2 separate regions of the Homo sapiens genome follow, and region 2 is linked to region 1. The links come from fine-mapping of genetic effects on gene expression. A gene starts in region 1. The other region holds a variant in brackets. All regions are shown on one strand. Distances are from middle to middle. Region 1 holds the start of HRH1 (histamine receptor H1). Region 2 overlaps LOC101927467 (a long non-coding RNA gene).

Region 1 (4,389 bases):
CCAGCATTGGCCAAACCACTCTGGGGTGCAGGGTCTCTTGGCAGGCTGCTCCGGCCTCCACCCAGCCCTGAAATCATGGACAGGCAGCACCTGTCCATCTCCTGCCTCCACGGGATTCTCTGTCACATTTGAAAATGAAAACAATGCCAGGCATCCCCTGCCCTTCTCCGTAGATTCTCCCCACACCAGGAGAAATGCCTGAATCACACTCGAGGATTTACATGGGGTTGTCCAGGATTCCTGTGAGCAGTGGACCTGCTGCCTGGCTTTCCTCTATTCATCCTTTGCTGCTGCCAGACACAAGCAAAGAAGGAGCTAAGGTCCCATCTGCCACCTCAGTTTCATTCATAATCTAGAGGGAGTCAGGCAACATGGGTGTTCAAACCCCAATTCTGTCATGGACCAGCTGGGCAATCTCAAGCAAATTACTTAACCTCTCTGAGCCTCAGTAGACTATCTGTTCAATAATAGTACTTACCTTCCAAGAATGCTGTGATGGGATAATGCATAATGATGCTCTCATGTGTACACCCTCCCTCTCTCCCAGTCTCTGCTGGTTTCTGGCTGCCTCCAAGACTCTTCCTATAAGACCCTCAATTCCCCTCTCCTTCATGCTCCAGGGACACACTCCGTCTGTGCTCCTGTCACAGGTTTCTGGCCCCGCAATCATGAAATGAGTTATTCAGGCACCTTCCAGCCTGAAAACCTTGTTCACCAGGACTCCCAGCCTGCCTCGTCTTGTCTGCTCCAGGCTGAGGCGGGAGCCCTCTGCCGGAGGACAGCCACTCTGCCTGGAACATCTCTGCACTATCAGCTGCCAGGCAAGCGGACACCTCAGAGGGATCAGGGAATCAGGAGGGAAGAGGTGGGATCTTCATGGAGGACTGGGGGCTGGGGGTGGGGTAACAGAGCAGGAGACGTGACTTCCTTGAGGAGCTGCTGTACTCCAGCTCCTGCTCCTGGCTTCCTGGGCTCCTTCGAGAAAAACTGAGAGCAACTTCTAGAATCTGATCTCTGAAAGAGCAGCCCCGATGCTTTTCTGTCACCAGAATCCACTCCCTGGCCATAATATCCACTCATTTTCCCAAAGCATCCTCCTCTCTCGGTACAACGAGGAGGAGGTGATCCGCCTCTTGCTCCACACCCCCAGCTGCAGCCGAACTGCAGGGGAAGGGCGGGTGGTGGTCCGGACAGTTCCCACCCCCGACTCCAGGTGACGCTGAGCCTGGGGCTTACCTCAGTGTATTCAAGTGATTTGGATCAGGATGACTCCGAGCAAAACCCTGACTCTCTCCCCTTAACCAGCTGATGCTCCTGGGCACAACTTCCCTCCCCGAGCCTCAGTTTCCTCCTCTGTAAAATGAGTATAACAATATTGCAACAGATAATGGATGCCCAAAGCCTGGCACAGTGAACGCACTCAACCAATGGGCTGGCACTACGGTTAGCAGCGAACTCAGACCCTGGGGAGGCTCAAAGAAAACGAGGCTCCCCCTCTGCTCGCCCGAGCTCAAAGACGGACGCTCAGGGCGCGCACCCTGCCCAAGCCCGGGGAAGCTAAAGGTGTCTGCGCGTCGAGTGCTGAGGCCACAGTGTGGAGAGGGGAGCGGTGCCACCGAGCGAGCCGCCCTCCGCCACCCTCCCCAGGCCACCCGCGTCGCGAGGGTACCCAAGCGCGCTCTTCTCAAGCGGGCGGCTCCGGGGTTCCCGGCCGCCCTGCCGGGATGCCCGGAACCCAGCCTGGCCAGCGCGCAGCCTCGCCCAGCCGCGGCGGCCCCGCTCCCGCCCAAGCCCGCGCCCCGCTGCGACTCACCGGCGCCGGCTCCGGGGAAAGTTTGGTGGCGCGTTGGCCGCGGCGGCCAGGCTGCTGGGTGTCGCGGGGGCGGCGGCGGGGGCGCCGGGGAGCTCTCGGGGAGCGGGGCGCCGGAGGAGGAGCCGCTCCGAGGGGCCCACCCGCGAGCAGCGGGGAAGGCGGGGACCCGGGCCCCGCGGGCCTGCAGCGCCCCCGCACCCGGTTCCACGCGCCCAGGGCCGCCCCCGCGGAGAGAGGGGGCGCGAGGGGCGCGCCTCTCGCTCGGACACCCTCTCCCAGCTCGCGCCCCAGGTTTGGAGCTGCTCCCGCTGGGTACCCGGGCTCGGGCTCTGCGAGGCGGACTGCTCCTTGGGTTTGGAAGGAGGGGTGGCAGAAGGGTCAGAACCTTGGTGAGACAACTCCACCCCCACCCACGCACCTGCGGGCACACAAAACGACAGACAGAGATAAATCAAGACAAAGAGGCACAGATGGAAATAGAGATGAAACGATGTTTGGCAGAGTCAATCACAGATAGATTGAAAAAGACAAATAGTGATACCTGCGCCCCTCATTCCTGCTAGGGGCGCCAAAATCGAAAAAGGCAAAGTCAGACAGAGGTGGAACAAGATTGACAGTAGGAACCCTACCCCTAGAGGTTTCGGGGAACTAAAGAGACCCCAGGGTCTACAACCTCACACCTCTCTTCTGTTTCTCCCTAGCCCGTCCTGATGAATGAGCCCACATTTCAAAATAGGATGTGTTTTAATTAGCAACCTGTGCCACCCCGAGCAGCAAGGGGAGGAGTGGGGTGGGGGTGAGGCCCCTCTGCAGGTCCCCGGGAACCTCTGTCCCTGGCAATGGGAGCTTGAGGATTCTTCCTGGCTGCCTTCATTTCCAGAGCTGGGAGAGAGAGGTCGAGGTTTTTCTGCCTTCTCAGCGCCGGGAAAACTCCATTTGAACCTTTGAACAGTTATGGTTTCAGATTTTACCCCAGCAGTTTCGAAGGGACCACCTAAGCTCACAGGGAGAGGAGGGTGTTTGAGGAGGTGGGACATGGTGGGTTGGGGTGTGGGGGTGGGGGTCAGAGGGGTATTTTAGCCTCCTCCCAGTAGCAGCAGTCCCACCAGCCCTGGTTGTGGACCACACAGAGCTGGGTCTGAGGCTCAGCTTCACAAGCTGTGTATGGTAGGTCCATGGTCCTTTTTCTTGGCCTCAGGGCCCATGTCGGTAACACAAGGGTTCATAAAGACAGGGGCCATTGTGTCAGATGCTTTTCTAAGTGCTACAGATGCTTACTCATTTAATCCTCACAACAATAATAGGTCCTAGTAGGTAGGAACTATTATTATCCCTATTTTACAGGTGAGAAAATGAAGGCACAGAGAGATTGAGTAACTTGCACAAGGTCACATGTAGGAGAACTGAGCATCCACCCTACTCAGCCTGGCCCCAAGGTCCAAGGTGCTGTTATAACTTCATCTCCGTGGGGCTGTTGGAAAGTTTCATGATGCCATTTCTATAAAGGGCTTAGTGCTCCATAAATGGTAGCTCAGAGATCACTGATCCCATCTGCAAGGTGGGGATTAAAGGACTTTGTGATGCCCAGTGATATGAGACTTTGGCCTTGAGATAATGGCAGGCCATGTCACTGTCCTGGGCATTATGGATTCGAGAAGTCAGGGATGTCCCATTTGTTTTTCTGGCCAGCCCTCTGCACATTAGCACAACCCCACAGCCAAGACTCACCCTGGATCCACGAAAGCCCTCTCCCACTCCCTGGTGATTCTCCAGGGCCTCCATATTTTACACTTTACCAGACTAATGCACCCTTTGGAACCGAGTTAGCACTCAGGATAGCAACTGTTATAAATTCTAAAGGAAATACATTTCCTCTCTCTATAGCTGTGGGGCTTAAGGGAGGTAAGGGGGGGATGGAGGTGGGAGGGGGGATGGGGGCAGGGCGGGTGGGGGAAGCCTGGGAAATGGCTGCGTCCACACTTTCATCCCTCCTCTCTCCATTCTGCATTTCAGCAAAGGCTTGGTTATTTGGAATTCCTCCCCAAAGTTTCACTTCCTGGGCTAGTTTTAGGCCTGCTAAACCCATGGTGATCAGCACTTTTAGAAAAATCAGCATCTTAGAAACAACATGTTAGACATGATTTCAAGCCCCTGGTAAGCAGGGTGTGGGTTGTTTTGCTGTGGCATTTGGAACTGACAGATCAGGAGGTACCCCAGGCTGTATGAGGGGTTGGGGAGCAGAAGGGCACAATCAACTTACTAACAACATACAGGCTGCAGCAGAAAAGTAACAGCCCCATGCTTACTGCATACTGTGTGTCAGGCTTGATTTAAGAGCTTTACATAAATAATGCACCGATTCCTCACAATCCCATGAGGTAGGTACTGTTGTCATCCCGTTTTGCAAATGAGAAAACAAAGAGATGAAGGAGTTTGTTCAGAGTATACAGCTAGTAAGTCTTCCCAAGATCAGACAGGTGGGAAGCAGCTGAGCCAGATCTGGAGCCTGGAGCAGTCTGGACCCACAGCCCCACTCCTACTTCTGTGCTTTGTGGAAGAAGCAGAAAAAAGGGACA
Region 2 (4,389 bases), 74 kb after region 1:
AACCCTGTCTCTACTAAAAATACAAAAGTTAGCCGGGCGTGGTGGTGTGTGCCTGTAATCCCAGCTACTCAGGAGGCTGAGGCAGGAGAATTGCTTGAACCCAGGAGGCGGAGGTTGCAGTGAGCCGAGATCGCACCACTGCACTGCAGTCTGGGTGACAGAGCAAGACTCTATCTTGGAAAAAAAAAAAAGAAAGAAAAACATGCCTGTTTGCTGCCAGCAGAACCAGTTCTTACCTCTAAACACTCTTTTGTCCAACTGATCATTAATTTATTTGTTAACAAGTTATTTTGGGGAGGGATTTCCATGTCTGTGCTAGGGCTAATTTTCTAGCACAGTGTTGGAGCTCAGTAAATATTGAATGAGTGCATGAAGGATGACAGGAAGGGAGAAAGGGACTGGGGGCTGTGTGCAAGGGAAGCAGCAGCATGGTGTGCCTGCAAGGCGGCTGTCCATCTTGCAGAGACACCAGCCCTGCCCTCCAAAGGTTCCCTCAGCCTCTCCATCTTCATGCTTCTCCCAGGTTGGTGTTGAGCCCTTTGAGAGAGGCTGAATTAAGTGCTAGGCTCCCTTCACTGCCTAAATGCCCTGTGAGAGCTGCGCCAAGCAGCAGATTGCTAGAGTGTGAGGCTGTTTTCATTGTCTGACTCGCTTGGGAGCAGGTGGTTCATTTCTGAAAAGCTGAGGCTTAGTGAGTTTTCATGGATGGAGGGGACAGAGAAGGAAACAAGACAGACTGACAGACACAGAGAGCCACAGCCAGCTGATATGTGCTGAGCACTCAATCCATGCCAGGCATGCTGTTAGGCCCTAGGAATTCAGTGGTGTAACAGACAGACTCAGGCCCTGCCCTCAGGGAGCTTAAAGTCTAGAACAGGGGTTGGCAAAGTCCAGCCTGTGGGCTGATTCTGGCCTGCTTGGAACACAGCTGTGCTCATTTGTTTGAGTGTTGTCTAGGGTTGATTTCACTCATTTGTCTGAGTGTTGTCTAGGGTTGATTTCACTCATTTGTCTGAATGTTGTCTAGGGTTGATTTCACTCATTTGAGTGTTGTCTAGGGTTGATTTCACTCATTTGAGTGTTGTCTAGCGTTGATTTCACTCATTTGTCTGAGTGTTGTCTAGGGTTGATTTCACTCATTTGTCTGAGTGTTGTCTAGGGTTGATTTCACTCATTTGTCTGAGTGTTGTCTAGGGTTGATTTCACTCATTTGAGTGTTGTCTAGGGTTGATTTCACTCATTTGTCTGAGTGTTGTCTAGGGTTGATTTCACTCATTTGTCTGAGTGTTGTCCAGGGTTGATTTAACTCATTTGTTTGAGTGTTGTCTAGGGTTGATTTCACTCTGTGGCAGAGATGAGTAGTTGCAACAGGGACTGTGTCACCTATAAAACCTAAAATACTTACAGTCTGGCCCTTTCTAGAAAAAGTGTGCTGACCTGTGGTGTAGAGGCCAAGCAGATACAAGCAGCCAGAAGCAGAAAGAAGAGTGAAGTCAAAACGCACACAGAAAATGAGAGAGAGAGAAGGAGCCCCCCAAAATATGTGAGGTGGGAAGGCTGCAGTTCCCACAAATATTTCCATTTGTCATCCTTCACCATGACAAAACTCCACCATCAGTGGCTTATTCCTTAGGGATAAGCATTGCTTTCACAAATATTCCCCTGAAAAGAGTTCTTCTTCCTCGATTTATACCCTGAGTATGGAGTAGCTGAAGAGATCATTCTGGAGGCAGACAGGGCTGCTGAAGATTTCCAAAAGCCAGGACGGAGGGAGAGGGAAGGGCTGGGCCTTATGGATGGGAGGTGTCTGGGTAGGGCAGAGCACCACAGCCTGCAAAAACAATTGTGTTGTTTGTCCAAGATGAGCCAGTGGTAGGGTGTGTCTCTGAGCTGCTCTGC[A/G]GTTTCTCAAGGGTGGGATTCTATTTATGACCAAAGAAGTCACTCACCGCCTAAGGGCAGAGTTGTGATTCCTCTTCCATCCCTGACATTGGGCAGCGTCGGCTCTTGGGGGTGCATAGGTATGTGTGTGCATGCACTGGTGTGTGTATCAGGAGGGAGCCACATTTTGCAGTGAAGGGGGTTCAGTTGATATAATTTGGGGGACCCTCTTTAAGGAAAAGATTTCAAAATTATCAATCCTAATTTAGGTATGCATATGCATATTTAGAATTTAAAAAGAAATCATAATGTTACAAAATTTTAAAAAATTGACAAGGGTCAGAAACACTGCAAAATCTAGAAAAATGACATATGTGTTAATTAACTTCCTGATACCCTCTGAAATGCATTTCATGGTAGTTTTGCTATATACTTTTCATATGTTTATGATTTTTAATAATCTTTTCTAATAGAGAAAAGAATGATAAGTCAGCCTTTCCTCTGACACGGTCGACTGAAATTCGTTTTTTCACCACGAGTTAGGATGCACAAGATGTAACTTCATATACATACTTGCTTCTTGCAGCACAGCCTTGGGTTTGGCTCCTACAGACTCAAGAATTCTGATAAATTCAATTTTGTATGTTTTCCATCACAAAAAGAAAAATGTATGGTATATTTATAATGCTATATGTTACCTTATTAGGGATATGCTGCATTATCAAGCATATGCCCAAATGGAAAAAAAAATTTTTTCGATTAGGTGTCAGTGAGAACTGAATCCAGTTATAATACTGTCTGTGATGATCTGAATAATTTTCCATTTCCATTTCTGGCTCTGTCCATTTCCAACACTGTTTCTCTTCTTTGGCCCACACCTTTCTGGTACTGGGCACCAGACCACACACTGAGATATTTTGGTACAGCCATAGGCCTCACTCCTTCATGTCATGATGCAGGGCAAGTTGGCATGGGGGCAATAGGGCTATTCTGGAGGTCATTGCTATGTCAGTGTCTTAGTCTATTTTGTGTTGTTTATCACACAATACCTGAAAGAAAAATCATTTATTTCTTACATTTATGGAGGCTGAGAAGTTCAAGGTTGAGGGCCTGCCTTTGGTGAGGGGCTTCTTGCTGCTGGGGACTCTCTGCAGAGTCCCAAAGTGGCTCAGGGCATTACATGGCAAAAGGGCTGAGTGTGCCAGTTCAAGTTTTTCTTCCTCTTCTTAGAAAACCACCGGCCCCACTCCCAGGATAACCCATTAATCCACTAATCCCTGAATGGATTAATCCATTCATGAGGGCAGAGCCCTCATGACCCAATCACCTCTTACAGGTTCCGCTTTTTAATTACATGACAAAAGGGCTGAGTGTGCCAGTTCAAGTCTTGCTTCCTCTTCTTAGAAAACCACCGGTCCCACCCCCATAATAACCCATCGCAGAGCCCTCATGACCCAATCACCTCTTACAGGTTCTACTTTTTAATATTGCCACATTAGGGATTAAGTTTTACTACAAGTTTTGGAGGGGACAAATATTCAAACCATAGGAGCCAGAATAATAATAACCTATATATGGAAGAGGTGGTGAACCACATCCATATATGCTCTGATCTCAAACTAAATGTATCACCAAGTCAACTCTCCCCAAATGCCACCTGTCATGAGGGGAAGTGTGAGTAGAATGAGCTAGGAGTCTTAACCAGTTGCGGATAGAATGTGTTGCTTGTCCTAAATGTTCATCATTTGATGCATGGACAAACAAAATGTGGCATATCCAAACTATGGATTATTCTTTGGCTACAAAAAAGGAATGAAGCACTGATACCTGCTACTACACATATGAATCTTGAAAACATATGTGAAATGAAAGGAGACAGACACAAAAGGCCACAAACTGTATGATTCCATTCATACGAAATGCCCAGAACCGGCAAATGTATTGAGTCAGAAAGTAAGACTAGTGTTTGCCAGGGAGGAAGGAAATGGGGAGTTACTGCTAATGGTTGATTTTTAGGAATGAATAAAGTGTTCTAGACTTAGATAATGGTGATGGTTGTACAACTTTGTGAATATACTAAAAATCACTGCATTGTACACGTCGAAAGGGTGAATCTTATAGTAAGTGAATTATATTTCAATCAAGCTATTATTTTAAAGATTTTTACTTTTGTGAGTTTTACAAAACCATGTGACCAGGTAAACACATAGCTAGGGCCTTCTCCCATGATAAATTACCCTTTGGGAATGTATCAGTTTGGGGATGTGTATCAGTTATCTATCAGTAGAGCAGATACTGTGTAACAACCAACCACAGAACTTTAGTGGCACAAAACCTCAGTGGCACACTACAATAAATATTTATTTGGCTCACAAATCAGCTAGGCTCTGCTGGGCTGTTCTTCTGGTTTTAGCTAGCTAGTCTCCCGCTTTTTTTTTTTTTTTTTGAGACAGAGTCTCGCTCTGTCACCCAGGCTGGAGTGCAGTGGCACGATCTTGGCTCACTACAACC

The links. PIP is the estimated chance that this variant, and not a neighbour inherited with it, causes the effect. A credible set is the group of variants that fine-mapping cannot tell apart.
Region 2: its variant is the best candidate, but not a certain one, in a credible set for the expression of HRH1 in tibial nerve (GTEx, PIP 0.71).

The regions. Positions count from the first base shown.
Region 1 is chr3:11,151,979-11,156,367 of GRCh38, reverse strand. HRH1 (histamine receptor H1) reads right to left here and starts at 1,875. Exons shown (of 2, transcript NM_001098212.2): 1 at 1,814-1,875. LOC105376951 (a long non-coding RNA gene) reads left to right here and starts at 1,968. Exons shown (of 5, transcript XR_940593.2): 1 at 1,968-2,104. It overlaps LOC124909345 (a long non-coding RNA gene), which reads right to left and starts at 1,622. Exons shown (of 2, transcript XR_007095817.1): 1 at 1,237-1,622.
Region 2 is chr3:11,078,173-11,082,561 of GRCh38, reverse strand. The region is part of intron 2 of LOC101927467 (a long non-coding RNA gene); the gene reads right to left. Among named protein-coding and RNA genes, the nearest start is that of SLC6A1-AS1, 61 kb to the right of the region's middle. The variant A/G (reference allele first, on the strand shown) is at 1,900.